Regions from separate parts of the Homo sapiens genome. Here regions 2 and 3 are each linked to region 1. Evidence: fine-mapped expression QTL. A gene starts in region 1. Each other region holds a variant in brackets. All regions are shown on one strand. Distances are from middle to middle.

Region 1 (2,759 bases):
TAAAACATGTTCATAACTCGTAACAACCTTTGCCTTTAGTTGGTTTCTTGTTTGGAGTATCAGTTGAAACAGTTAATTCAATATTATCTGGATCGCCTCCTTCCTCTTCAATAGCCTACATTAGAAAGAGAAGTTAATATGCTACACAATCTATCTAAACTTATTTTATAAAAACGAAATGAAAAAAAATTTAGCAAACCTCAAGCCTCAAGACATTAGAATTGCCAGTCATTTCATCAACCGACTTCAAAAATGAGCAATTAAACTACACGAAAGAGTGAGAGAAACTTTCAGGGGAAAAAAATCATTAGGTATCAAAATCGCAAGGAGTTTTAAATTCTACCGTGTCAAGATAATTAAATATCACATCATACTGGCCAAAAATCCAAATATGTTCTATTGCAGAAAAGTTGCTAGCTACTAAAGTAAATAACTAAAAAGAGTTTTCCTAGTTTCTGTAATGCAAACTTACTGCTCCTCTGCTACAATTCCAACGCTCACTCAAACCAGAAAGCTAATCAGGAAAGAAAAAGTAATTATTGCGCTGATGCAAAAACTAAAAGCCTAGTGGAAAACAAAAACTCTGTCACCCACCCATCAACTCCCACTACCAATTCCCCCTCAAGATGGGGAAGAAACGGTTGGGCACAATTAAACGGTAACTTCGCAGAAGTCACCAAAGTAACCATTCCCTCTGAGGCCAAGAAATGCACACGCTCACCATGGCTAAAGGCTGGGGAGCCAGCGCCTCCCAGGTCTCCGCGATCGCCCTTGGGAGGCCGCGCCGGCCGGCCGCAACCCTCGCAGCCTGGCGGGGACGTCCCGGGGAGGCGGAGGCACGCTGGGCTGCGGTGGCCGGTCCCTCGCAGGCCCGGCCCGGCCCGGGGCGCGGGGCGGGGGCACCGCGGAAGGGTCCCCGTCCTCCACGCTCGCGGGAGCCGCCCCTGGCCTCCCTACCATGCCGTTCCGCAGGTCCCAGCGGCTGCGGGCAGCCGGAGGCTGCGGCGGAAGCGGGGCGCCGAGGCGCGGCCTAAGTTCCCCTTCCCGGTCCTTTCCGGTCCTCGCCGGGCCTCACCTGCTTGAGTCGGGAGATGAGCACGGTCTTGACTCCGGTGATGTCTAAGTTCCGCCGCTTCAGCTCGGACTTCAGATCGATGACCCGCAGATCGGTGATCTTTTTACCTTCCGCCTGACCCGAGGCGGCCGAGGCTGCCACCGCACCGGTAGCGGCAGCCATCTTAGAAGAGCAGCGCGCTGCCGAGGCAGCGAGTGGGCTGCAGGGCGGCGGCAGCAGCGCCAACTTCCACCCAGGCCTCGGCGGCCGCCGGCGCCGCGCAGCGCTGCGCACAATGAGCCGCTGGCCCCTCCCCCGGTCCGCCACCCTAGCGCAACCTGCAGCAGCAGCCGCCAGCACCCGGATGACGGCCGCGCGTGCGCGTTGGCGCAGGGACCGGCAGCGGCGCGCTCGGTCGAGCGGGCCGCGGCCACTTGGGCGGTGCGCTCCCTTGTGTGGACTGGGAGGTCGGGCACGTCCTACCGCAGCAACGTCCGCCGCGCCGCCGTTCTCTCGTCGCTTCGTTAGCCATTTTCTTGCAACGTCTTGAGTCTTGAGCAACAACGATGTGCGGGCACTGAATGACATAGTGCGCGCGTTACTCAACACAAACCGAGGGGGCGCGTGCGCGCGCTGAACCTCTCAAGGAAATACTTTATCAGTTCTGCTGAATAATCGAAAAATTGTCGCCGGTGTGCACCAACGAACTAGGTTCCCCGAGTTCCATTCAAAAGACCTCAAAGCAGTTCTAGGGCTGTTAGTCCAAAGAATAGGAAGGGCTGGCCTTTGACACATGGCTCATTGGCTGTCTCAGGAGAAAACATCATCGCCCTGCCCATGGCAGCTTAGGTTATTCTAGGGCTGCCCTTCCTCACTTGAAAAACAGGAAAACTTCTTTCTTGTTGGCCTCAGGTTTGCTATCCTCCCCGGTAGACCTGATGGCTCAACACGAAATTGTTCAATGAAAGAGAAAACTAGCTTATAAGTACTTGTTGCCGTTATCATATACTGTGTTCACTATTTTGCCCCCCAAAATTTGGGATTCCAAGAACAGTGAGCATCTTCTTATGGAGGATCGGCCTGTACAAGTGAGTACCTATTTGTAATTTTACCTTGTATTATTCATTATCAAAGTGCAAGCATTGATAAAATAAAACGATTCTATAAATTCCATAAGGTGATTATGATGCACAATTAACTATACTGTATTTCCTGGTTTTACAACTTAAATTCCTGAGATCTGACTCACTTTAGGTTACTTTTTCTGATTGGCTCAAAAAAAAGGAAGACTGGACATTATAAAAGAATACCTGACATTAGGGTAGTTCTTTACAGTTTATAAGGCACTTTGACGTACAGTAACCCCCTTAATCCTTCCCAAGTCTGTCAAGTAAATCTCCGTGAGGCTTAGAGAGATTAAATGACTTGCCCATGTTCACACAGCTGGTATGTGGCCGAGCTGTGCTCAAATCCCAGGCTCCTGATTCCAAATCCAGCTCTGTCTCTGCTACAACATTGGATTCACAATAATAGAAGTTTAGAATGCAAGACTCCTTAGAAATCTTCTGGCCCATCACTTGAGGTCAGGAGTTCAAGACCAAACTGGCCAAGATACAGGGTTTAGTAGAAACCCCGTCTCTACAAAAAATACAAAAATTAGCCGGGTGTGGTGGTGAGCACCTGTAATCCCCGCTACTCGGGAGAC
Region 2 (2,759 bases), 49 kb before region 1:
CTGCAGTCCAGCATGGGCGACAGAGTGAGACTCCATCTCAAAAAACAAAAAACAAAACAAAACAAAAGAATTCATTGTTTACTGGATCCTGCCATACGTACATACCCATATCTATATCAACTTGCCAGAACGTCACTGAATTCATTTAAAAGGAAGAATACAAACTAACACATTAATATCAGCTGTTCTGCAAACACTCTTTTGGAGACTACGGGTTGATACAGGGAAATGTTCAGGCAGATCTAGGGTTTTCAGTAGTTGCAATTCAGTCTCTCAGAAACTATAATGACTTTTATGGAAAGGATAAAGTGTTGGTTGTGTGCTGGCAGAAAAACTGGTTAGTTATTTACCTTGAATGTTGGGTTATCATGCCTGCTCCTGCCCGGCCGTCACCCATTCGCCTCGTATCATGATAGCTAGGCCCTTGAGAGGGTGGACCATGCCACTCTTTCCTTGGTCCGCTTGTGTCCCGTCCATGGCGTTCAACCACATGTCGCTCCTCAGGATAGTGCTAAAAGAATAGCATATGAAAAGTCACTTGGCCGGGCGCAGTGGCTCATACCTATAATCTCAGCACTTTGGGAGGCTGAGGCAGGCGGATCACCTGAGGTCAGGAGTTCGAGACCAGCCTGGCTAACATGGTGCAACCCCGTTTCTACTAAAAATACAAAAAATTAGTCAGGCATGGTACCCCACACCTATAATCCCAGCTACTCAGGAGGCTGGGGCAGGAGAATCACTTGAACCCGGGAGGCAGAGGTTGCAGTGAGCTGAGATTGCGCCATTGCACTCCAGCTTGGGCAACAAGAGTGAAACCCCATCTCAAAAAAAAAAAAAAGGAGAAGTCACAATACCCTCAGTCTTGGTCTCATACCAACTTATATTGGTGTGCTTTTAATGTCAGAAGCAAATTAATAAGATGTCTGAGAAGATAAAAGGATGAGTAGTGCAGCAGCATATGAAAAGAGTTTATATCTATTTTGTAGTGAGAAGCTACTCAGGTCTCAGGGAAGGGTATGGAGGAAATGATTTAATACTTTTGTTGTTGTTGTTTTGTTTTTTGAGACAGAGTCTCGCTCTGTTGCCAGGCTGGAATGCAGTGGCGCGATCTCGGCTCACTGCAACCTCCGCCCCCCGGATTCAAGCGATTCTCCTGCCTCGGCCTCCCAAGTAGCTGGGACTACAGGTATGCACCAGCACGCCCAGCTAATTTTTGTATTTTTAGTGGAGACGGGGTTTCACCATGTTGGCCAGGATGGTCTTGATCTCTTGACTTCATGATCCGCCCGCCTAGGCCTCCCAAAGTGCTGGGATTACAGGTGTGAGCCACCACACCTGGCCAATTCCTTTTTTTAAAAAATAATTTTTTTTTTTGGAGACATGATCACACTGTTGCCCAGGTTGGAGTACAGTGTTGCTACCGTAACTCACTGCAACTTTGAACTCCTGGGGCTCAAGCAATTCTCCTGCTTCAGCCTCCTGCCTAGCTGGGACTACAGGGTGCACACCACCATGCCCATCTTTAATTTTAATTTTCCTATGGAGATGGGGGTCTCACTATATTGTCCAAGCTCGTCTCGAACCCTTGGCCTCAAGTAATCCTCCC[G/A]CCTTGGCCTCCAAAAGTGCTAGGTTTACAGCCACGAGCCACCAGGCCTGGCCATTAATTTGTATTTCTGTATTTTCTAGCACCCAAGGGCTTTTTGACCCTTGATTATTTCAAATACTTGGATCTTATATTGACTGTAAGAAGGCACAGCCAGAGATCAAAACCTTAAGACAAGGCACGGCAGGGCCTATGATCAGCCTATCAGGACAACATGCAGACAGCACAGCAAACAGGAGTTGTGAACTTATTTTACATTGTACTACTTAGTGCTATGGCACTTACAAGGTGCTACATCCATAACTATGGAAAACAGAGTAGCAAACACAAAGAAACAGAAACTGTAGAACTAGAGATCTATGGAAAGAGAAAGCAAGCATTGTGATACTTAGCTTACAGGAAAGAAAGCAGAAGGTACCCACAGAGAGGCTTAGATATAATACTGGCAGAACAATTTACAGACTAACATTATGAAAAAGAAAATTTTCAAGGGAGGATACAAGATCTCCTCCTCAGGACACATTTTCTAAAAGGACCTCTGAATGCGGAGGGCTAGTCTTTGATACTTAAATTTTACTATAAACAAGGCAGACTTATTTGGATTATAGACTCAGTCTTAAAAATTCTTTTTAGGAGGTGGGCGTCATGGTTCATGCTTGTAATTCCAGCACTTTGGGAGACAGAGGTGGATGGTCGGAAGTTTGAAACCAGCCTGACCAACATGGTGAAACCCCGCCTCTACTAAAAATACAAAAATTAGCCAGGCGTGGTGGCGCACATCTGTAGTCCCAGCTAATCGGGAGGCTGAGGAAGGAAAATCGCTTGAACCTGGGAGGCGGAGGTTGCCGTGAGCCGAGATCGCACCACGGCATGTCAGCCTGTTTGACAGAGTAAGACTCCATCTCAAAAAACAAACAAACAAAACAAAACAAAAAAAACAACAACACACACACACACACTGTATTAAAATACAAAACAAACACCAGCATATAATGGAGACACACACACTGCACAATTCTTTTTGGTATATAATTTATGAAAGTATGTCCTAACTGTGCTACTATCAACCCACACGCCAGTATTTCATCAGTAGAAGAATACTTTTAAATGAGGCAAAAGGTTTTTGTTCATTTCGGTCTCTAAAAGATAAAGACAC
Region 3 (2,759 bases), 590 kb after region 1:
TACCCATATAAAATATGCTGCTAAAGTACATATTTTGCTGTCAATGGCTTGACAATTTTTTTTTTCAAATTTGGACATGAGAGGTTATATAGGGACTATATTATCCAACACATATTTTCTTATTTTGCCACAAATTTCCACTTAACAAATAAAAAAAGGCGAATGCTGTTTTGCAATCAGAAAGTGAATTTCTTTTGTGGTAGCGTACACGTGGTTCATGTGGTTCTCCACGTTTAAGCACAAACCACAGCACAGGAAGCCACACCCCCTCCAGCATCTCTGTCTTGTGGGGTCTTTGAGGAGAAGGAATCAGAACATCGACACCTGGGAAGAGGGAGGCGGGGAACACCAGCTGGACTCTGGCCAAGGAGTGATGTAAGCAGGTGACACTTGGCTGTCAGCTGAGCTTCTCAGGTGCTTCTGACATTGCCAGCCCCTTGAGATGAGCCACCGCAGGTGTGCTCACCTTGGCTACATGTTGAAATCATCCAGAGGAGTTGGGAAATCTACTGATGCCCCGCTGTGCCTCCCAGACCGATTAAGTCAGAACCTCTGGGAGGTGGGTCGCAGGCATCAGTGCGTGCCCGAGGCCTCCGCGTGTTTGGGTGTGCAGCCGAGGTGGTGAGCTGTCGAGCCACAGTGCAGTTCTCTTCTCACCAAAGCTCAAATGAGAATCAGCTTCCATGTTCTTTCCTTTACCAGAAATTTGCAATAAAAAGAAAAATAAAATTTTCACATAAATGTGGTGTATGATTTTTAAATTGAAAAGTCTTTCAGTGTTGAGCTGAAGACTTAATTAGGTAAAATGCCATAGGAAATATTTCTGTTTGCTCTCTGTGGAAACGCTTTGATGGTTGAAATAAAGTGCTCAAGTCCTGGCAGCTCCTCTGACGACTGGAATGTCATTGGGAGCTGCTGGTCTGTGGGCTTCGGGGCTGTAGGGCCTTCTCTGCAGCCTTCTTGTCTCTTGGCAGTTCTCGGGTGTGTGCTGTGTGCCTGTGCTGTGTCCCCTGTGTATGTCAACTCTTTTCATTTTAACTAGTTGAGTTCAATACCATTTCCCCATTTTACAGATGAGAAAACAGAGTCACCTAAAGGTTAAGCAACTTGCCCCAAGTCCTATAGCTGATAAATGGGAGCCATGATTCAAGCCAGGCCGCCTACTTCCGCACTCTGGGAGCCTTACCAGCATACCACACTACCTCCGAAGACATTTTGGCTTCCCACATAAGTGACTTGCTAGGCCACTGACATCAGCCATATCTATATGAGCTTGGCCTCCTGCCATCTGACTACCCTCGCTTTTTAATGCCCCGATTCCAAATACGTAATGAGGCAATCTAATTAGCTTGTCAAACGTCTTCCCCTGGCTGTATCAATGTGGAGGCACCAGAGGTGGGGGGCAGTTGGTGCCACAGGACTTGTAGGATCACAGGCATTTCATCCCCTGCACTTGGGCTGTCCTAGGTCGTGGTCCCTGGCTGGCTCTGCACATCGGGAGATGGATTGTGTAGGGGAGTGTAGAGCAGAACAGAGAAGATGGCTCCGTTCAAGTTGTAATTATCCCACTAGGCTTTCAGGGGGAAAAAGAATCACAAAGCACTGTGACATCAGTCCCTTGCTCTGCCACACAGCCCTCCTGACAGGTTGTTTACAACACAGCAGCTTGCTTCC[A/C]CCAGTACCAGTGAGAGAGAGGGTGAACGGGAAGGAAGCTAGTCTTTTGTAACCTAATCTCAGAAGTGACAAGCCACCACTTCCACTAGTCTCTTCATGAAAAGCAAGTCCAGCACACACACAGCGGGAGGGGATCACACAAGGGGCTGAACACCTGGGGATGGGGTCACTGGGGGACATTTTACCGACTTCCTGCTCCAGCCGGAATCTGGACTCTGAGTCTCAGTCAGGTGGGCCTGCAGTGCAGTGTCTACTCTATAAAAGGATACTGCTGAGGTCCTTTAGCTCTGGATTTATAGGGACGACAAAATAACTTTTTGAGATGAACTGAACCAAAAATGGCCCAAGATGAATTGACAATTTCCAATAGACATGTGAGGGAGCTTAGAAGTGGAGCTCCCTACCCAAAAGAAATGAAAGTGGGGAATCGGGTATGTGTACATGTGGGCATGGTGGCTTACGCCTGTAATCCCAACACTTTGGGAGGCTGAGGTGGGCGGATCACCTGAGGTCAGGAGTTCAAGACCAGCCTGGCCAACATGGTGAAACCCCCATCTCTACAAAAAACACAAAAATTAGCCGGGCGTGGTGGCACATGTCTGTAATCCCAGCTACTCGGGAGGCTGAGGCAGGAGAATTGCCTGAACCTGGGAGGCAGAGGTTGCAGTGAGCCGAGATCACGCCACTGCACTCCAGCCTGGGCAGCAGAGTGAGAGTCTGTCTCAAAAAAAAAAAGAAAAGAAGTGAAAACTCTCAGGCTCCACCAAGACCTACTGAATCAGAGGCTCTGAGACGGACGCACCAAATTGCTTCAAGTCCTGCAGGTGATTGTAATGTAAAATCTGAGGCTTGCTGCACTAATAAGTAGCCACTAATTACATGGATTTTTTTTTAACAGTCAAGAGGTCCTTAATTTTTTGGCACCTATTGTGCCATAAATTCATAGGGAACAGGTTCCAGCAGCTCAGGCCCTCTTCTGTTGGTTCACTAAGTGTGCTTCTCTGCGTAGAGCAGGCTGGTGCTTCAGCGGAACCCAGGTACGTTTCTCTTTGGGTTCCTTCGTTTTCTGATCGTTTTCCTTCCGC

The links. PIP is the estimated chance that this variant, and not a neighbour inherited with it, causes the effect.
Region 2: its variant is the best candidate, but not a certain one, in a credible set for the expression of SLTM in blood mononuclear cells (TOPMed, PIP 0.87).
Region 3: its variant is the best candidate, but not a certain one, in a credible set for the expression of SLTM in whole blood (TOPMed, PIP 0.89).

What each region holds. Positions count from the first base shown.
Region 1 is chr15:58,932,329-58,935,087 of GRCh38, forward strand. SLTM (SAFB like transcription modulator) reads right to left here and starts at 1,351. Exons shown (of 21, transcript NM_024755.4): 1 at 1,076-1,351; 2 at 28-115. The coding sequence starts at 1,237. RefSeq lists silencers at 708-967, 1,338-1,517 and enhancers at 1,018-1,257, 1,548-1,687, 1,708-1,797.
Region 2 is chr15:58,883,276-58,886,034 of GRCh38, forward strand. It overlaps SLTM (SAFB like transcription modulator), which reads right to left. Exons shown (of 21, transcript NM_024755.4): 20 at 351-511. Among named protein-coding and RNA genes, the nearest start is that of SLTM, 49 kb to the right of the region's middle. The variant G/A (reference allele first, on the strand shown) is at 1,607.
Region 3 is chr15:59,522,815-59,525,573 of GRCh38, forward strand. FAM81A (family with sequence similarity 81 member A) reads left to right here. Exons shown (of 9, transcript NM_152450.3): 9 at 1-741. It also overlaps the pseudogene RPL21P114. Among named protein-coding and RNA genes, the nearest start is that of FAM81A, 86 kb to the left of the region's middle. The variant A/C (reference allele first, on the strand shown) is at 1,675.